Regions from separate parts of the Homo sapiens genome. Here region 2 is linked to region 1. Evidence: fine-mapped expression QTL. A gene starts in region 1. The other region holds a variant in brackets. All regions are shown on one strand. Distances are between the middles of the regions. Region 1 holds the start of USP35 (ubiquitin specific peptidase 35). Region 2 overlaps ALG8 (ALG8 alpha-1,3-glucosyltransferase).

Evidence for each region. PIP is the estimated chance that this variant, and not a neighbour inherited with it, causes the effect.
Region 2: its variant is fine-mapped to the expression of USP35 in whole blood (TOPMed, PIP above 0.99).

What each region holds. Positions count from the first base shown.
Region 1 is chr11:78,183,329-78,194,482 of GRCh38, forward strand. USP35 (ubiquitin specific peptidase 35) reads left to right here and starts at 5,591. Exons shown (of 11, transcript NM_020798.4): 1 at 5,591-5,829. It overlaps KCTD21 (potassium channel tetramerization domain containing 21), which reads right to left and starts at 5,298. Exons shown (of 2, transcript NM_001029859.3): 1 at 5,245-5,298. RefSeq lists silencers at 5,015-5,354, 5,785-5,944.
Region 2 is chr11:78,101,497-78,111,981 of GRCh38, forward strand. It overlaps ALG8 (ALG8 alpha-1,3-glucosyltransferase), which reads right to left. Exons shown (of 13, transcript NM_024079.5): 9 at 7,946-8,085; 10 at 5,311-5,450; 11 at 2,860-2,957; 12 at 2,484-2,556. Among named protein-coding and RNA genes, the nearest start is that of NDUFC2-KCTD14, 27 kb to the left of the region's middle. RefSeq lists a silencer at 3,407-3,701. The variant C/T (reference allele first, on the strand shown) is at 5,838.

The DNA of each region.
Region 1 (11,154 bases):
AGTTCAAGACCAGCCTGGCTAACATGGCAAAACCCCATCTCTACTAAAAATACAAAAAATAGCTGGGCGGGGTGGCGTGCGCCTGTTATTCCAGCTACTTGGGAGGCTGAGGCAGGAGAATCGCTTGAATCTGGGAAGTGGAGGTTGCAGTGAGCCAAGATCGTGCCACTGCACACCAGCCAGGGCAACAGAGTGAGACTCCATCTCAAAAACAAACAAACAAAAAACAAGAGTCCATAATGTTATTCCCAAAAGAAAAAAGAGGGTGAGAAGAAGGGAGTGAGAAAGATAGAGACAGGAAAAATTAATTCTTTTTTTTTTTTTTTGAGACGGAGTCTCACTGTCGCCCAGGCTGGAGTGCAGTGGTGTGATTTCGGCTCACTGCAACCTCCGCCTCCCAGGGTTCACGCCATTCTCCTGCCTCAGCCTCCCGAGTAGCTGAGACTACAGGCGCCCGCCACCTCGCTCGGCTAATTTTTTGTATTTTTAGTGGAGACAGGGTTTCACCTTGTTAGCCAGGATGGTCTCGATCTCCTGACCTCGTGATCCGCCCGCCTCGGCCTCCCAAAGTGCTGGGATTACAGGCGTGAGCCACCGCACCCGGCCAGGAAAAATTAATTCTATAAAAAAGAACACTAATAAACACAGAAGGAATGGCAGAATTAGAAAATTACCAATTTGCAACCCTCAGTGTTGTAATTCAAGCAAGGATCATCCAAGGATGTGGTGTGAAAGGTTATCAGGAACACATAATTATAACAGACTCAGAGAATCACTTCACAGATTACTTATTAATTGTAAGAGAGAAAAATTTACCTTTACGATAGAGAGATCAGGTTGCCATGACCTTAATAATCAAATTTAGCATTCATGGATAGTAAGACCCTGACATCATATCCTCCTGACATGCAGTAAGTACACACATTGCCAAAAACTTAAATCTAACCCCAATCTAATCATTGATAAACCAATCAAACATATTTAAATAGGTGGAGAAGCTCTATTTATTTATTTATTTATTTATTTGAGATAGAGTCACACTCTGTTGCCCAGGCTGGAGTGCAGTGGCACAATCTCGGCTCACTGCAACCTCCACCTCCTGAGTTCAAGCAATTCTCTTGCCTCAGCCTCCTGAGTAGCTGGGAGTATAGGCACACACCACCATGTCCGGCTAATTTTTGTATTTTTACTTGAGATGGGGTATCACCATGTTGGCCAGGCTGGTCTCGAACTCCTGACCTCAAGTGATCTGCCCACCTCAGCCTCCCAAAATGTTGGGATTACAGACATGAGCTACCATGCCAAGGGGCTCTATTTAGATTAAATGAGTTGATAAAAGAGATATAATAGGATGCAATATGTACATCTTGACTGGATCTGATTTTAAAAACCAGAAACTATATAAGGTATTTTTGGGCAATTAGAATTTTTTTTTTCTTGAGACAGGGTCTCACTCTGTCGCCCAGGCTGGAGTGCAGTGGCGCGATCATGGTTCACTGCAGCCTTGACATCCCCAGGCTCAGGTGATTTTCCCAAGTAGCTGGGACTACAGGTGCACGCTACCACACCATGCTAAATTTTGTAGTTTTTGTAGAGATGGGGTTTCACTATGTTGCCCAGGCTGGCCTTGAACTCCTGGGCTCAAGCAATCTGTCTGCCTTTGCTTCCCAAAGTGCTGGGGTTATAGACATGACCCATTGCACCTGGCAGAAAATTTTGAATAACTATTACATTGGGTAATACTGACTTCTTGCTTATTACATATAATGTATTATGGCTATGTAGTAGAACGCCCTTATTAGGGGATACATGTTGAAGAATTTAGGGGTCAAACGTCAATCAACATATCTGTAACTTACTTTTAAATAATTGGGCCAAAAAAGTGTGTGTTTGTGTAAAAGCACAATTGGCAAATTGTGATTTGGCGTATCTAGGTTAAGGGTTGTACTTTAAGCTTTTATGTAAGCTTGAAAATTTTAAAAATATTTGTATTTTAAAAGAGGGGGGAAGAACACTTCTTCATAGGGCCAATAGATGTAAAGTTACAGTCATTGTGCCAGACCCCAATAAGTCGCCAGATTTAGTAAGTTACAGATTTACTACTACTACTTAGAAGTGTGAAAAGCTCATAATTTTCCTTCCCAAGTGTTTCTGAATTTTGAAGGGTGAGGATGCCAACCAGGGCTAAGTGGTGGAGGAGTTAGAATCTAAGCCTGGGTGGGCAGTCTGGATAGAGCCACCACCCACAGAAACCACACCACTAGGCCTATTTTTTTTTTTTGAGATAGAGTCTCGCTCTGTCACCCAGTTTGGAGTGCAGTGGCGTGATCCTGGCTCACTGCGACCTCTGCCTCCCAGGTTCAAGTGATTCTCCTGCCTCAGCCTCCTGAGTAGCTGGGATTTCAGGTGCGTGCCACCATGCCCGGCTAATTTTTGTATTTTTAGTAGAGACGGGGTTTCACCACGTTGGCCAGGCTGGTCTCAAGCTCCTGACCTCAAATGATCCACCCACCTCAGCCTCCCAAAGTGCTGGGATTACAGGCGTGAGCCACCGCGCCCGGCCAGGTCTGCCTATCTTCTGTGCTGTGATTCTGCCTGGAAGAAGATGGCTGTTCAGGCCTTGTTTTTCCTGCCTCATCATGAACCCAGAATCTCTGTAACTCGGCAGGAAAGAAACTCCTGTCATGACTCACTGTGAATGTTGACAAAGAGAGGCCACTCCTGGGCCTCAGAAATGTCAAGGATGGGCAGAAAGAACTGGAGACAGGCCAGGCTCAGTGGCTCATGCCTGTAATCCCAGCACTTGGAAGGCCCAGGTGGGAGGATCGCTTGAGTTCAGGAGTTTGAGACCACCTGGACAACATAATGAGACCTCGTTTCTATAGAGAAAAAAAAAAATTAGCTGGGCATGGTAACACGTGCTTGCAGTCCCAGCTGCACAGGCTGAGGTAGGAGGATCGCTTGAGCCTGGGAGGTCAGGCTGCAGCAAGCCGAGATCACGCCACTGCACTCCAGCTTGGGCAACAGAGTAAGACCCTGTCTCAAAAAAAAAAAAAAAAAAAAAAAAAAAAAAAAAAAAGAAAAGAACTGGAGAGGCTGTGTGGGGTAGGGGCAGACCATGCATGGTATTCGGCATTACCTGGGTTTGCATTTGAATCATCCCCTGCCACTTACTAGCTGTGCAGCCCTGGGCACGTTCCTGGGCAGATGATGATGATCATAACAACAACAAACACTACAACGGCAATAATAATGGCTAACGTTTATTGAGCAGTTACTACCGTGCTAGGCACTCTATACATGTTAATCTCTTTCAATCTCACAGATTAAGTAGATACTATTATATACCTACTTTACAGACCAACCATACTGGGCCCTCTTCGACTTCTGCAATTTGGCATCTGCCATCCCCTCTGCCTGGACCTTGAAGACAAATCCCATGCATCGGCCAGGTCTCTCAGCTGGAATTCATTCCTTCTCCTCTGCATCTGCGGAGAATTTTAGTCTAACCCCTTACCACAGCCAACTTTACTTAAGTAGATGGATGCCTGGCTCCCTTGCTGGGGCTGGGGGTGCCCCTTTCTATATCCACAGAAGCACGTAGAATAGGGGAAGAGGAAGAAATTTCTCTCCTGTTTAGTCAGATCCATTTTCCCCACCTGGATTTTCAAAACTTTTTAATTTTGAAATGCTCTGTTCAATTTTCAATCTGGAATCTAAAGGGATGTGACAAGGCCGAGGTGATTACTTGGGAGTAAATGCAAGGAGAGTTTCCACTGCGTAAGGGAATGGACAGCACGTGGCTGGGTAAATTTCAAAAAAGACAATGCTCAGAGTGAGTACTGTGTTTTCCAGTAAGTGGGAGACTTCCCCACCTTACCCCACCGGAGAAAGGACTCTTTGCCTTGAAGCCCCTAGGACGACTACCCTTTCTTCACCTCCTCTTCCTGACCACCCCACATCAAAGAGCTGCGTCTATAATTCTGTCTTGCCCAGTCCATATCTCTAAGAAATCCGAAGGCTGCTCTATTACCATCACAACCCATAGGGAGGAGAGAAAAGGTGCTTCCTAGACACAGGGACCCCAGAATGAGCTGCGCAAAAGGCAGGAGGAGAGAAAGGTGGGCTGGAAGAAGGAGACCACGGAATCTGGCACGGCAAGGTATTCTTTCATCTGGCGTAGACCTCCAACAACCACTACCATCCCCCAGCCCCTTCCAGAACTTTCCTTCACCTTCTCGGCTCACTCTCACGCTTCACCTTGTGCTTTTCCTCCGGCACCAGCACCCCATTTCAAACCGCTCTCTTCCTATGTCTCCTCCAAACAGTAATTTATAAACACCGTGCTTTCAAATCCATCTCATTTCATCCTCACAGTACTATAGGAGGGCTGCCTTACAGGCTGTCATTCGGAAGGGTTGGGGGGACTGGTCCTGCCAGACAATTTGCGAAGGTCGGGGCATCAAAACTTTTCTTTCCTGCCTCCCACGCCAAGCTAAACCTCTGCCTCCCCGAGTGCAGGGAGAAAAGCAAGGTCTTTGAAGTAAGGAGTCCTGAGTGGTTTTAGGCAAGTCCCTTCGCTTTTCTGAGCCTCACATTCCTCACCTGTCAACCGCTATAGTGACGCCTCTACTTTTCAGGGCGTGGGAGGTCAATGAGATCACTGGTGTGCCGCACTGAACTCGGGGATGGACTCTTTATTTCCAGTCAGTAAAGGGAGGTGTTCTATGCATCACAGGCTTTTGCCCACGCCGCCACAGCGCGGCCGGCCCAGGGCTCTCCAGAGCGGGGCAAGTTCCCTGTCATCTGTGTCTCCGCCCTTCCTTCCCCAATCTCACCCAGGCTGGCCTCATCGGCTTGTTCCGCACCCACTCCCCAGCCCTACAGCCCCCACTCCGACCTGACAAGTGCCCCACCCCCACCTAGAGATCCCGCCTCTCCTTGCCCCACCCACCAAGGACTCCTCCCACAGTCCCGACCCTCATTATCCGGGCTTTTCCGACTATCACCATCCGCCCTTGCTCTCCCAACAGCCCCGCCCCTCTAAGAGCTCTGCCCACTTCGGCTCACCTCGCTCCGAAACGCGCCCCCTCCCCCGCACCACAGGCGATGCCATCCCCATTTCACAGATGGGAATGGCGAGGCTGGGATAGATTAGTCTCATGGTAAGACAGGTGCTCAGTGGGCCCACGTACCCTCGCCGGTAGTCCCCGAGCCCCGCGACCCCGGCCGTGCCGCACCCACCTCCTGCCCTCGCTCTGCAGCCTCTCCCTCCGCGAGCGGCCAGCGCAGCTTTGCGAGGGGGGCGGAGGGTAGGAGCCCAGCCCAGGGGCGTGGCGGTCCGGGGTCTGTGCGCTGCCTTCCGGGACTGGTAGTTCTCTCTGGGCTCCTCGCAGCTCGGCGCGTCGAGAGCGAACTCCATCTCCCAGGAGGCATTGCAGCGAGTTGCTCTGCGCCCCGCCTCGTCCCCGCCGGTGTCCGGCCGGCTGGCCTTAAAGGGGACGCGGTCAGAGTGGCAGCTCGCGGGGTGGCCCCCGCTCCGGCTCCGCCCCATTTCACGCACCTCGCCCCTCCCCATGCTTCATCCCGCAGCCCCGGGGCCGCGCCGCAGAGTCGGGCTTCCTGGATACATAGAGGCTTGTGCCAGGCGGGGTGGGAAGACTGGATTTTGCAGTGGAAGCAGCATCTCTTCCGTCTGGGACCTGGCTGAGGGCGTCCCCACCCTGGGGGGAGCAGAGGACCAGCCCTGACCTAGCCGGGCCCAGCCTCGTCCTGCCCGGCCTGAGCGCCCCGCCCAGCAGCCGGCTCTGGCCCACCGGGGTCCGGGAGGTAAGGGGGTTGGGGGCGTGTGACTGTCTTTGGGGGGCGGTGTCTGCACCCTGGCCTTTCGAGAACCCTGGACTTGCGAGCCCAGGGCTGGGAGTCGGGAGATCTGGGTGCATCCTGGGCCTCCTGGGCCTCACTGTGTGACCTTGGGCGAGTAGCTATTCCTCTCTGGGCATTAATCCCCTCCCTTCATCAATTGTATGTCGAAGTGATCCTGCTCCCTCCCCTTTCAGGTAAGAGGGCATTCGCACCCAGTACCTAGTACATTCGCTTGCTGGCTTTTCGTGGGGCCCTCCAGCTCAAGCGTGGGCTGGGCGCGGGTGCACTGGAGGGAGGGAGGTGGCACAAACTGGGGGGCCCGAGGCCACCATTGCTTGGAATGGGCTTTTCCTATTCTCAGTGTGCTGGGCCCTGGGATACCCTCCCCAACCCCCTCTTACGGCCCTGGCCCTTGCAAACCGGAGACCCTGATGTGTCAGCTTGGTGCCCTTCCTTCCAGAAAGCTTGGGGTGGAGTGCGGCCCTCACAGGTTTGTGAGGGGTGGCCCCGCAGGGATAGGTGTGTGTGGTGGGTTCCTGAGGAGGAATAGCTGCTCCTGCTTTCTTCCCTTCTCTCTCCTCCTTATCCTTTGAGGAAGAGCAGCTGCTTTTTACCAGTGAAACCCTTTTTTCTTTTTCTTTCCAGGAGACAGTTTGGTGGCCCAGACATGGGCCTCCCGGAGTAGGGTGAAGCACTTCTTCCCAGGGTTGCCTTGGGTAGAAGTTCAGTTAAAAAATACCTAGAGAGATGCTGCCATTCAGACACCTGAGGGGCCAGAGATGGAGGGCACCACCTGGTGTCGGGAGGGGCAGCCTGGTACCCCCAAGGAAGCTCTGGCTCCCAGGGGAGTCAAAGGAGGGAGGCTGGCTTCGAGGGTCAGAGAGGGGAGGAAATGTGCTCCTCAGCTCTTAGGTGCTGAGCAGAGGCTGGGAGGGGCTGCTCTGACCTGGAGCAGGGAGAGGTTGAGTAACACCATGAAGCCTTCTTCTCAGGTCCTAGGAGATTCTGTGAGCTTTTGACCTGAAGGCTAACCAGGAACAGATTTTTGTTTTGTTTTGTTTTGTTTTTGTTTTGTGCTTTTTCTTTTGCTTTGGTTGTTTGAACAATTTCTAGAATGGCTAAAGCCTCAGTCCAGTCCAGTGACCTCTGTAGGGGCTTTCTTGACTGATGTTTAAGATTTTCAGGGTTTTTGATATGCAAGACCAGGCCTGGGCAAAGGAGGGGGTGGTGACTGGACCAAAGGTTAGGCCAGTTTCTGGAAGGTACTTTTGTGGTTACATCTTTGGTTTTCTCTCATCTTGCTGTCACATGTCTCTCATGAGTTGCTTGACGCACCTTCACGGACACCTCAGTCCTTGGTTCTGTACTGGGCACTGGGCTCAGAGACGGGGATTGGACCTCTGCCAAGGGAGGTCCCAGCCTGGTGGGAGACAGAGACATGGATTCCAGTTATGCTGCAGAGGGATGAGAATAGCTAAGAGGGCCTTGGAGGCCAGAACTTTAGACACTTGAATTGTGGAGGGAAAAGGAAAGGCTTCCCAGAGGAGAGGGCATGTGAGCTGGGCATTGAAGGGTGAGTCAGAATTTTCCAGGAGAGAAGAGGGAAAAGCCCTTTTTCAGTAGAGGGGACATTGTGCAAAGTAGCAGTCAGGAAAAAGCCCCCTGCTCCAATGTCTGCAGAGTCTCCACTGAACAATGTTGCTTGAGTTCATCTCCACCCCTGCCCCACATCAGCTGAGTGTCACAGAAAGGGCTTGCATGTCCGGCTCAGGAGTTTGGACCTTATTCTGGGTCCAAGGGGCTGGAGAGTGTTGAGAGTTCTGAGCAGGGGCATGGACGGAATGGTGCTTACCGTGTAATAAGCTCCATCTGACGATGCTGCATCTGGAGAGACCAAGGAGGGATGATGAAGCTTGAGCGGGGGCCCAGGGCGTGGCAGTGGGGCTGAGCATAGGAGTTGTGTACACACACATACACACACACACACAGGGTGCTTTGGGGTGATGGAGATAAGTCAGGCTCAACTGTGCAGGAGCAGAGATCAGTCAACACTCGGCAGAAATGTTGAGGGTCATCCGAGAGGAACAGGTGAAAGGATCTGGGCCTTTTGGCAGAGGGATTGGGATTTTCCTGAGTGCTCACTGCGTGCCTTGGAGTGTGCTGGTGTTGCTGGGACGCCCCTCAGGCTGTCATGCCAGTAGGGCGAGGGGTATGAGGCAAGGGCTTGGGAGGAGCAGCAGCGCTGGCTGGGAAAGGCTAAGGGGTGGGCACGTAGTCACCTTCTATTTGGGCATTCCGAGGATCACAGAGGTAAAAGAACACCTACCTCCATGGTGGCTGGGCTAGACTCGAAGCCTGGACTCTGTTCTCCTCTAGGACACATGCCTCTGTTGGAGGATGGATTGAGGGAGGGAATTGGGAGATGGGTTAGGAGGCTACTGCACTAGTCCAGGCAAGAAGTCAAGGGGTCTGATCCTGGGTGGGGCTGGGAACACCGAAGTGGCAGGGAGGGCTAATGGAGGAAATGCCTTGGAGAATCAGCAGGATCAGCAGTGCGTGTCTCCTTGTCTCCTTTCCCTGACAGTATCTGTGTCTCCCATCAGTGCCAGGTGGCCCAAAAATAGACTCATGACAGCCCGGCCCTCATCTTTTTTTTTTTTTTTTTTTTGAGACGGAGTCTTGCTCTGTCCCCCAGGCTGGAGTGCAGTGGCATGATCTCGGCTCACTGCAAGCTCCGCCTCCTGGGTTCACGCCATTCTCCTGCCTCAGCCTCCTGAGTAGCTGGGACTACAGGTGCCCGCCACCACGCCCGGCTAATTTTTTGTATTTTTAGTAGAGATGGGGTTTCACCGTGTTAATGAGGACCTCATCTTTTTTATACCTTGTCTCAACCCTGTGAATGGTAGGCTTGGAATAGTCCCCATTTTCCAGATGAGAAGGCTAAGAAGCCAGGCAGGGGCTCACCCAAGGTCACCATGACTTTGAAGCAGAAAACCTGTATCTTCAGCTTTTAACACAGGCTCTCCTCGGGGAGGACATGGCTGCTGTTTGCTGCTGCGGTTGGTGCGGGGCAGCTGTCTCTTGAGTCAGAGCCAGCATGGACAGGCCATCTCCTCACCCGGGGCTTAGCAGGCTAATCCAGCCCTCCTGAGGGAGGCAGAGTGCAGGTTCTAATCCTGCTTTGCCAAGGCCATGTTCCTCTCTCTGAGCCTCACTTTCTTCATTCCTGCCAGTGGGATAGCTGGCCTTGTCCTCCCTTCCCTGGCCTGATGGGGCCAGGTGAGGTGCAAGCCTCTAAAACCCTTTTGTCTGAGTGCATGCAAGATATTGAGTGGGTTTGCTGGTGACCATGGTGACAGCTGTCCTCAGACTGCCTGCGTGGGAGTTGGGGCAGGTGGGCAGGGCTTGCTTGCTGTGGCCAGGCTACGGACTGAGCAGAGGCTGCCGGCTGGCCTTGGAGATCAGAGCTCTCATGGAGCAGCTCTATTTGAACTGTCAGCTGCCAGGCTTATGTGGTGTTAGGTAGAACAACATGAAATTGCCAACATTTGATCATTCGGTTTCATGCGGTTCAGTCTAATAGCATTTGTCCCCATTTTACAGAAAAGAGGCTCATGGGTATGATTTACTGAGGGTCACACAATGAGTCAGGGCTAGAATGTAGGACTCCTCATTCCTAGTCTGATACTCTTTCTACTCTTTCTAGTACTCTTTCTACTACCAGAGTCTTCCCTGTCTCCAGAACTCCATTTCTGCCTGCCCCCATGCCCTCTTGCTTCACACATGATGCCAGTGCCTCATGGATTAGGGTTTCTTCTTGGCTGCCTGAGTACCAGGATTTCTTGGCATCCTGGGTTGAAAGCATATGAAATCCACTAGCCATCCCAGGGGTCTGGGAGGATGGACTGTTTGTGTGGGGGAGGTTGGCCACAGCAACTGCCTTGTCACGGGCACTGCCTAGAAAGGGGACCAGGGCTGAAGGGAGAGTTAAAAAAATTTTTTTTCTTTTTTCTTTTTTGAAACAGGAACTCACTTAGTCACCCAGGCTGGAGTGCAGTGGCGTGATCTCAGCTCACTGCAACCTTCGCCTCCCAAGCTCAAGTGAGCCTCCTGTCTCAGCCCCAACTAGCTGGGACTGCAGGTGTGAGACACTACGCCTGGCTAATTGATGTAATTTTTTTTTTTTTTTTTTGTAGAGATGGGGTTTTGCCATGTTGCCCAGGCTGGTCTCAACCTCCTGAGCTCAAGCCATCTCCCCACCTCGGCCTCCCAGAGTGCTAAGATTACAGACATGAGCCACTGTGCCCAGCTGGGAGACCAGTTTTTAAAGACACTTTATAGGCCTTTTGAGATTATACCTTGCAGGGGCACCCTTACAAACATTTCTGCCTCCCCCATCTGACTGGAAGCTCCTTCAAGGCAAGGACTTTGCTTCTGAAGCAACAGGAGTTGACATTTTCTGAGAACTTCCTTGTGCCCAGCTCAGAGAGCCTAAGTAACCTTTATGGGAACCAGAATGTATCCCAGATGAGCCACATTCAAAGAGTCAAAAACAACAACAACAACAACAAAACCCAGAATCGAACACATCATTTCCCTCATTTCCTCATTCAGGAAGCTTCGGGTGGACCCTGAACTTTTTCTTTTCTTTTTTTGAGACAGGGTCTCACTCTATCACTTAGGCTGGAGTGCAGTGGCACGATCTTGCCTTACTTCACCCTTGACCTCCTGGGCTCGCCACCACCCTTGGCTGGTGTTGAACTCCTGGGCTCAAGTGATCTGCCTGCCTTGGCCTCCCAAAGTGTTGGGACTACAGGCGTGAGCCACCGCGCCCGGCCGCATCTGAGCTTGTAGCAGGTGCCCAGGTGCTTCTGAGGCATTCTGAGGCTTCTGAGCAGGCCAGGATTTGGGAACCACTGATGTCTGCCATGGTTACAACCTCTAACCAACAGTGAACTCTTAAGAGGCACACACTCTTGGCATGAGAGATGCTAGCCACAGACTAATAAACCCTGGTCCTTTCCTGGTGGAGCTCAGCCTGGTGAGAGAGACAGATATTTAAACAAATGGGCCCTTTGTATCGTAACACGTGCAGCAATGGAGGTTAGGTCACAGCTGAGAACTAGAACAGAGCAGGGAGCTCACTGGGTCTAGTACATAGTTGGGGTTCCAGAATATCTGTGATTCTGAATAAAACTTTCCAGCTTATTATCCCAGAAATTTAAGGCTTGTCCACACTCTAGCTCCAGTTCTCAGGCATAAGAGTAGTTTTTACTGAGCCCATAAGTT
Region 2 (10,485 bases), 82 kb before region 1:
CACAGGCCTGTAATTCCAGCTACTTGGGAGGCTGAGGCAGGAGAACTGCTTTAACTGGGTTGCAGTGAGTCGATATGGCACCACTGCACTCTAGCCTGGGCGACAGAGTGAGACTCTGTCTCAAAAAATAAATAAAAATAAAAAATAAGTTTCACATTTAGAAAAAAATGATAATTATATACGTTATATTATCTCAACAATCTAAATTTACTCCACCATTGACCTATGCTGTTATTTAGCTCAAGCTGCTCAGAGAGAATTAGTTCTGCATTTGAAAGAGGTAAAGGGGTTGGGTGCTGTGACATTGGAATAAGAACATGAGAAACAATATAGAATTGAAGATTTAAAAAAAATTTTCTTTTTGAGATGGAGCGTTGCTCTGTCACCCAGACTGGAGTGCAGTGGTGCAATCTCAGCTTACTGCAACCTCCACCTCCTGGGTTCAAGCGATTCTCTTGCCTCAGCCTCCCAAGTAGCTGGGATTACAGGCGCCTGCCACCATGCCCAGCTAATTTTTGTATTTTCTATAGAGACAAGGTTTCACCAGATTTTTAAAATATTTTTTATTTTGGTAAAATATATATAACATGAAATTTGCTATTTGTTTAACCATTTTTAAGTATACAGTTTGATGGTATTAAGTAGATCAATAATATGCGCCCATCGCCACTATCCACCTTCAAAATATTTTCGTGACCCCAAACAGAAACTCTGGAACCATTAACAATAACTTCCCATCCCCCTGTTCCCTCAACCTCTAATCTACTTTCTGTCTCTATGTTTGTTTATTCTAGAATTTCCTATCAGTGGAACGATATGATATTTGTTCTATTCTCTCGTTTCTTTCACTTAGCATGTTTTCAAGATTCATTCATGTAGCATGTATTGGAACTTCATTCTTTTCTTTGGCTGAATAATCCACTATATGTATATATCACACTTTATCATGTATTTGTTGATGGACATTGGGTTGTTTCCATCTTTTAGCTAGTATGAATAATGCTACAATGAATACTGATGTACAAGTATCTGTTGAGTCCCTGTTTCCATTCTTTTGGGTATAGGGGTGGAATTGCTGGGTCACATGGCTATAACTGCATTTTAACATAGTTAATTATATAAGTTTTTATGGACACAGTTATGAACCATAAGCAAGCTTTAAAAAATTACAGTTGGCCGGGCATGGTGGCTCACACCTGTAATGCCAGCACTTTGGGAGGCCAAGGACGGTGGATCACCTGAGGTCAGGAGTTTGAGACCAGCCTGACCAACATGGAGAAACCCATCTCTACTAAAAATACAAAATCAGCTGGGTGTGGTGGCGCATGCTTGTAATCCTAGCTGCTAGGGAGGCTGAGGCAGGAGAATCGCTTGAACCTGGGAGGCGGAGGTTTCAGTTAGCTGAGATCGTGCCATTGCACTCCAGCCTGGGCAACAAGGGTGAAACTCCGTCTCAAAAAAAAAAAAAAAAAATTATAGTTAACATTACATACAGTTTAGAAGAGAAAAAGTTTCCATCTATAATTCTGTAGTAAAATTTGTACATAGTTGGGTGCGGTGGCTCAACGCCTGTAATCCCAGCACTTTGGGAGGCCGAGGTGGGTGGATCACCTGAGGTTGGGAGTTCAAGACCAGCCTGACCAACACAGAGAAACCCCATCTCTAATAAAAATACAAAATTAGCCGGGCACAGCAGCTCACGCCTGTACTTCCAGCACTATGGGAGGCCAAGGTAAGTGGATCACCTGACGTCAGGAGCTCGAGAGCAGCCTGGCCAACATGGTGAAACCCCACCTCTACTAAAAATATAAAAAATTAGCCAGGTGTGGTAGTGATGCATACCTATAATCTCAGCTACTCAGGAGGCTGAGGCTGGAGAATCGCTTGAACCCAGGAGGCGGAAGTTGCAGTGAGTGGAGATCGCGCCACTGCACTCCAGCCTGGGCGACAAGAGTGAAACTCCGTCTCCAAAAAAAAAAAAATTAGCTGGGCATGGTGGCGCATGCCTGTAATCCCAGTAACTTGGGAGGCTGAGGCAGGAGAATAGCTTGAACCCGGTAGGCGGAGGGTGTGGTGAGCCGAGATCACGCCATTGCCCTCCAGCCTGGGCAACAAGAGCAAAACTCCGTCTCAAAAAAACGAACAAAAAAAATTTGTACATAGTATCTTTTAGTTTTTTCCATATCTATCTGTATTTAATAGTTTTATTCATAAAGCATATTTTACATTCAGTTTTTGAGTTTTCATATAGGATTTTAATTTAAGTAGTCCTCCTCAAATACTCCCCCAAACTAAAGACACAAACTATGTTGTCTCGACTGAGTGATGGGATTGAGTGATTTCTCCCTCTATTTACCAATTTTTTTTGTAATGTTGTCATATTACTGTTATAACTTAAAAATAAAATTTAAAGAGCTTATTTGACCACTTAGGTGTAAACATTTCACAAGAGTAAGTATAATTTTAAACATTTTTTTGATTACCTGAATAAAGTCTTCAGTGACGAAATACTATATATGGTGAATAGTAACATGAGTAAGATTTTAATGGGAAGTTCTGTTAAAAGAATAGAAAAAAAAAGATAATTTAGCTGATGACAGAAAGACTTATGATGCTGAAAGTAATATAAGCACACTGACACAGCTATATAGTGCTAATAATACTTTTTAAGTTTAATTTTACATTTTTGTGACATCTAGAGATGCTGAGAATTACAGGAAATTGGAGGTTTTATTTAAGAGGATGAATGATCTCTATCCAAGAGATTTTAGAGTTGTTTAAATTAGATGTATTAATCTGTGGGCCTCGATGAAAAGGTTGTGATAGTCAAATATATTTTTCTCAGAAGACGCTGTTTACCTGGTGCAGTGAAGAGCAGAGGAAAGAGGGAATAATGTCCTGTTGTGGTCAGAATCAGAAAAATCGAAGCGTCTCCTGCTTTTCCCACAGACAAAAGGCTAAAAATAAAAATAATTTCTTAAAACAACAACTGTTATTACACTTGCAAATAGCTTAAATAAACTGCATCTCCTATTACATTAGAACTGGCTGAGGCATAGAAGAACATGCTGATTTTGGCACAAGTTCAATTTAGTTGAGAATATTAATTTTTTAGTAGGAAATTTTAAGCAATCAATAGCATGTATCAAACTGAATCAGGGGTATCGTAAAAGAATCTTGCTTCTGGCCGGGGACAGTGGCTCATGCCTTTAATCCCAGCACTTTGGGAGGCCGAGGCGGGAGGATCACCTGAGGTCAGGAATTCAAGAGCAGCCTGGCCAACATGGTGAAACCCTGTCTCTGCTAAAAATACAAAAATTAGCTGGGCATGGTGGCGGGTGCTTGTAATCCCAGCTACTCAGGAGGCTGAGGCAGGAGAATTGCTTGAACCTGGGAGGCAGAGGATGCAGTGAGCCGAGATCGCGCCACTGCACTCCAGCCTGGGCAACAGAGCGAGACTCTGTCTCAAAAAAAAAAAAAAAAGAATCTTGCTTCCCTGAGTAATTGCCTTCTCCAAAGACAGGAATGTTGTGGGATTGGGAGCTGCCTAGTGGTGGCAGTCAGGGAAACAGGACTTGGAGTTTCATTTCCAACCCTATAGCTCATCTCTTGGACAATGCCCTTCACCTGCTGGTGTTTGGTGTGAATTCAGACTAAAGACATTAAAAGTTTTTGCTTTACTTTTTAATTTGGAAACTCCAAGCTGCTAAATAAACCCAGACAAGCCACATACTGGCCTGACAAATTTGCTTAATATATGTTCAGAGCTTAAATGATTTCTCAAGATTCAAGAAAAATATAAAGAAAGAGGCTATTATTACCATTTATTTATCTATTGGGTTTCAACTATGCCTAAACTGGACACTTACATTTAAAATGGTTTTTTTAGCATGGCATAGTGAAAAGATCATAGATTCAACATCATAAGATTCAGGTCCTAACTCTAATTCTTGCGACCTGTATGACTTTGGACAAGTCACAAACATTTTGAGCCCTAGATTCTTCAGATGTTAAGACAGGGAATAAGCCTGTTTTGTTGGCTCACATCTGCAATCCCAGCACTTTGGGAGGCTGAGGTAGGAAGACTGCTTGTGCCCAGTAGTTTGAGACCAGCCTAGGCAACATGGCAAGACCCTGTCTCTACCAAAAAGTAAAAAAAAAAAAAAGAAAGGAAAAAAAAGGGAATAATACCCATTTATTTTAACTATCTTTTTTTTTTTTCTTTTTTTGAGACAGGGTCTCACTCTATTGCCCCAGGCTGGAGTGCAGTGGCGCCATCTTGGCTCACTGCAACCTTCACCTCCCAGGTTCAAAGGATCTTCATGCCTCAGCCTCCCAAGTAGCTGGGATTACAGGCATGCACCACCATGCCTGGCTAATTTTTGTATTTTTAGTAGAGATGGGATTTTGCCATGTTGGCCAGGCTGATCTCAAACTCCTGGCATCAAGTGAACCACCGCTTCAGCCTCCGAAAGTACTGGGATTGCAGATGTGAGCCACCATGCCTGGCCAATTATCTTAAAGATTATTGTGAGGCGCAAAAGAAAGAATGCAAAACAAAAACAGTTCTGGAAAATCTGAAATGTAGTACAGTATCAGGTATTATTCCAGAATAGACTAAATCCTTACTTTGACTAACAACACTTAACAAGGAACCATGGGACCTTATTTTCAGACGGGATGACACCAAAGCCCAAGTTTTTTCTTTTTTTCATTTTTGAGACAGAGTCTCCTTCGGTCACCCAGAATGGAATGCAGTGGTGCGATCTCGGCTCACTGCAACCTCTTCCTCCCGGGTTCAAGCAATTCTCCTGCCTCAGCCTCCCGAGTAGCTGGGACTACAGGCATGTGCCACTATGCCCAGCTAATTTTTTGTATTTTTAGTAGAGATGGGGTTTCACCATGTTAGCCAGGATAGTCTCGATCTCCTGACCTCGTGATCTGCCCGCCTTGGCCTCCCTAAGTGCTGGGATTACAGGCGTGAGCTACCGCGCCCGGCCAGCCCAGGTTTTTTCTATAACATACTGTCCCTCAATGATCAGATCTAAAAGCCGGCTTTCATGGTACTTAATCACTACAGTGCTTCTTTCCAAAAACGCAGAAACAGAAATAGTACATGCATTTTTGCATACCTTCATGGGTCCAAGAATCTCAAGTTAAGCATCCCTGTCCTGTCCTAGTGGACATCTGTTCCTATACATCTTTGTTTTTGCCTATCCTGGTGAACATGACAAGAAGGGACAGAGCAAATAGAAAATAGGATCATTGTGAAATATGCCAAAATGCTCACTGGCTGAGCTATCTGCTTACCTCATTGGGAGAATTGCTAGAAGTATGGCTTTTTCATGAACATGCCACCCAAACATAAAGGAGCTCAAGGCACAAAGAGTTAGACATCGGAGAAAGCCTCTGGGCCCTTGGGGTTTAAACCAAAGACAGAAAATAGAGGGCTAGAAACAACAGGCAAAGATAAACTTCAGTATCATTTGAAACAGACTTTACAGAAACAGAGTTCAGGTGAATACAATTTGCATCATCTCTGAAAGACAGCCAATCTTAGACAATTCTTCATGAAACCGAATCATTCATCACTTTGTGCACAGTCTAACAAAAGTTAACATAAAAGCAACAACTCAGAAAAAATTGGCATTTGATGTGTATATATATATTTTTATATGTAAATAAATATATTTTATATGTAAATATATATATATATATATATATATAATTTTTTGTTTTTTTGAGACGGAGTCTCGCTTTGTTGCCAAGGCTGGAGTGCAGTGGTGCGATCTCGGCTCACTGCAACCTCCACCTCCTGGGTTCAAGCGATTTTCCTG[C/T]CTCAACCTCCCAAGTAGCTGGGATTACAGGTGCCTGCCACCACGCCCAGCTAATTTTTGTATTTTTAATAGAGACGGGGTTTCACCATGTTGGCCAGGCTGGTCTCAAAATCCTGACCTCGTGATCTGCCTGCCTTGGCCTCCCAAAGTGCTGGGATTACAGGTTTGAGCCACCGCACCTAGCCTTGATGTATATATTTAACTCATTAAAATTAATTCTACTGGCTGGGCATGGTGGCTCATGCCTATAATCCCAGCACTTTGGGAGGCCAAGGCAGGCAGATCACTTGAGGTTAGGAGTTCAAGAACAGCCTGACCAACATAGTGAAACCCCATCTCTACTAAAAATACAAAAAAAACTAGCTGGGCGTGGTGGTACATACCTGTATTCCCAGGTACTCTGGAGGCTGAGGCAGGAGAATCGCTTGAACCTGGGAGGCAGAGGTTGCAGTGAGCTGAAATTGCGCCACTGCACTCCAGCCTAGGTGACAGACCGAGACTGTCTCAAAAAAAAAAAAAAAAAAAAAAATTGGCCGGGCCTAGTGACTCACGCCTGTAATCCCAGAACTTTGGGAGGCTGATGCAAGTCGATTACGAGGTCAGGAGTTCAAGACCAGCCTGGCCAAGATGGTGAAACCCTGTCTCTACTAAAAACTACAAAAAAGGCCGGGTGTGGTGGCTCAGGCCTATAATCCCAGCACTTTGGGAGGCCGAGGTGGGCGGATCACGAGGTCAGGAGATCGAGACCATCCTGGACAACATGGTGAAACCCTGTCTCTACTAAAATACAAAAAAAATTAGCCGGGCGTGGTGGTGCATGCCTGTAGTTCCAGCTACTCAGGAGGCTGAAGCAGGGGAATCGCTTGAACCCAGGAGGTGGGGGTTGCAGTGAGCTGAGATCGTACCACTACACTCCAGCCTGGCAACAGAACAAGACTCCCGTCTCAAAAAACAAAAACAAAAACAAAAACAAAACTACTGCAAAACAATTAGCTGGGTGCAGTGGCAGGCGCCTGTAATCCCAGCTACTTGGGAGGCTGAGGCAGGAGAATCGCCACTGCACTCCAGCCTGGATGACGGAGTGAGACTCTGTCTCAAAAAAAAAAGAAATTAATTATACTATCAAAATTAATAATTAAGTTCTGGGATGTACAGTCTAACAACTTATTACATCTTCATAATTAGTTTACTAATAGTTCATTTATTAATGAACCTAATAGGTCAAACTACAGAAGTCCATAGATGCTTTTGAGCCAATAAATTAGATTTACCATATTAATAAATACTTAGTTTTATTGGCTGGAAGGCCATAGAAACTATATGTACCTCATAAGGCTGAAATTTTAGGAAAAATGTTTTACCTCAATTAAAATATGTGAACAAACAGCCCAACAGAGCTTAATTATCTACATACCTGTACTGTCATGTAATTAAGTGGAATCAGGTGGTTGCTAGCAGGTTTGAAACATTCAGAAACCAAAATTAAAGATGAGTGTAATTATCGATAGGATTGAGTTGTTTATATTGAATTCTACTAAAATTATACCATGAAATTGAGGTCACTGCAATCACTAATGAAATTTTAGAAATTAAAGTTTCTAAAGTACTTAGAATGAGGCCTCTAAGAGCATCTTACTCATATTAGGCTCATCTTAGGCTCAAAAAGCCTTTGTCGACTCTCTCAACTCATTATCACCATCAAGACAAAACATCCACGCTGTCCAGATACATTTGGAATTTTGATGATTTAGCTAACGGTGAGAAAAACAAACCAAATCTGGATGTCCCTGCCACAAACATTTCCTTCTTTCTCTGCAGCATGATCCATGCCTCTTCCTCTCTGGGCTTTTCTTTTTCCCTTCCCCCGGGTGAACAGATGGTCTAACAGCCACTGGCAAGAATCTCTCACAAAGGCTTTACTGGTAATCCTTCCTTATGGTATTCAAAGTTACTCTAAGAATTGCTAGGAAATGCTTCAATCTGCAGAAGGATTACAGGCATGAAATTTATCCTACAGTTGGAAGAGCTTGAAAGTTGAAATTTAATCAGCCAGACAAAAGAAAAGCAGAGAAAACTCAAGAAATGAGCACCATCTGTTGAGTTCTTACCAATATGGCAATCAGTGTGCAGATGAGGGTTGCCAAGGGAGTCACTGAGGGAAGGACTGTGTGTTGGAACTGCTGAACCAAACCACTTGTCATTGAGGCCTTGGGAATATTGTTGGGATCAAGAAATTTCAATTTCAAACCTATTAAACAGATATTTTGTTTTGTTTTATTTTTATCTTTATTACTGAGATACCATATATTAACAATCAATTCCTTGAGGAATAAAAAGTAAGCTACTAAATCTTATTGCTGCTTAAAGGCTAAGATTTCATGAATTTAATCCTATACTATTCTACCCAAAATGCCTCTGGTCTTAAGATTATAATATATAAAGCAGCTCTTTGCATTGGAACAGGGAATTTGTGCAGCTTATAGGAAACTTGCTGGCAGGCAGCACAAATGGTAATCTGCTCTCACCTCTGAAAGCAAGCTTCTAGAACAGTCTGAGCATGTCATGAAGGAACTTTGAATCCTTCATCTCCTATGGGAGAAACCCTCTATTCCTAAACATAGTATCCAGTGTCTTCCATGATCTCATCGCCCCTTCCCCCCTGTTCAATCTCATCTTTACTTTGTTAAATGCGGCTTGGCCACAATGAAGTAACTGTGAGTCCTCAATATACCACTCTCAACACCTGTGTCCCTCTGCCCAGGCAACTCCCTTTGCCAAATTAACTTCTAATTCAATCACCTGAGAAAGCTCCTAAATCAATAAGCAGAACTGATTTTCTTGTGAGCTCACTTTTTTTTTTTGAGATGGAGTCTTACTCTGTCACCCAGAGACAGAGGCTGGAATGCAGTGGCGCAATCTCAGCTCACTGCAGCCTCTGCCTCCCAGGTTCCAGGTTCCAGCGATTCTCCTGCCTCAGCCTCCCCATTAACTGGGATTACAGGCATGTGCCACCATGCCCGGCTAATTTTTGTATTTTTAGTAGAGACGGGGTGTCACCATGTTGGCCAGGCTGGTCTCGAGCTCCTGACTTCAGGTGATCCGCCCATCTCAGCCTCCCAAAGTGCTAGGATTACAGGCCTGAGCCAACGTGCACAGCTGAGTGAGCTCACTCTAACAGTGTTCACCACAAGGCACTGCACTTGTTTATGTGCTCATTTCCTCTACTATACTGTATTCCTTGAAGGCAGGAATGATGATGAGTTCATTTCTATCCCCAGTACATAGGAGCTCAATAAATACTTGGTTATTAAATAAATCAATTCAGAGAATGACAATACAAGCCCCAACAAGCTCTGGCTAATAGGACAGTCAGAGACAGTTTGAGCACCTATAGGGCCTGTCAAATGCCAGTGAAAATGAATACAATGTGGGAAAGATGTACCAAAATATTTTCTACTTACTAACCTCTTCCCCTTTCCCCTTTGGCCTGCTGATTCTCTCTTACAGCTAATAACTATCTCCCTAAAACAAAGTTGTCTAACTCTGACACTGACTTTCCATGTAAAACATCTTCAAAGACACAAACATACAAGTGAGGGTACAGTACAGCTTCCTGACTCAGACAAGGCAACTGGCCCTTGTACCTCATACTATGCTGGCTGTTTAAAGCTTTTTTTGAAATATGAATGTTAGGAATTACTCTGTAAGAATGCCATGTACATCAAGGCTAGATTCACAGTGAGCAACACGGTGACACAATGTATAAGTCATCACATAGGCAGTGTATGATCTCCTCCAAGTACTTATCAAAAACAGTAATAGTGGCCACCATGCATGGAGCGTCTACCATGTGCCCAGGGCTCTGCACTTACTACTTTTAGCCCCCTGAGGTACAGAGATGGAGTAACCTGCCCAAAGTCACACAACTAATAGGTGGTAAAACTGAACTCAGGTTTGTCTGGCTCCAAAGTCTCTGCTACTGATAACCTAGTACTTTTTAAATTTTGCTTCTGTTCCTCACAACACACTGTATAGGTACAGGTAAAGTACTAGTATGTCTTTCGTATAGTGAGGAAAGTTAGACGAAAGGAAGCAAATGACTTGTCAATGCCACACACTGCAATAGCAATTTACACAGGTGAGCCTCCAAACCAAGTCATCAGACTCTAGGTCTGGAGTCCACAAACTATAGGCCAACAGCCAAATGTAGCCTGTGCCCAGTTTTTGCACAGCACTGAAGTATGAATGGTTTTTACTTTTATAAGGTTTTAAACAAATGTGTGCATACACAAATACAGACACAGACACACATACACACACACACACTGTGTGTGGCCTGCATAGCTTAAAATATTATCTGGCCAGTTACAGAAAAAGTTTGCTGACCACCACTCTTGATCATGCCATTTTCCCACCAAGCTAGATTGTATTCACAAATGAGAGACTGTGTTATCCAGAGTGAGTTATTTTTAGTAGAACCATCTCAAACCATAACTTATTTTTCATTACGACCCAATTTTAAAAACCATAGCCTGGGTTTTTCATTTCTTCTCACCTCATGTTAAAATGCAGGGTTATTTTCCTTACTGGTTTAATACCGAGAGTCACAACTTACATATTCTTCTTTCTTGTATGTTTAGGTTTAAAA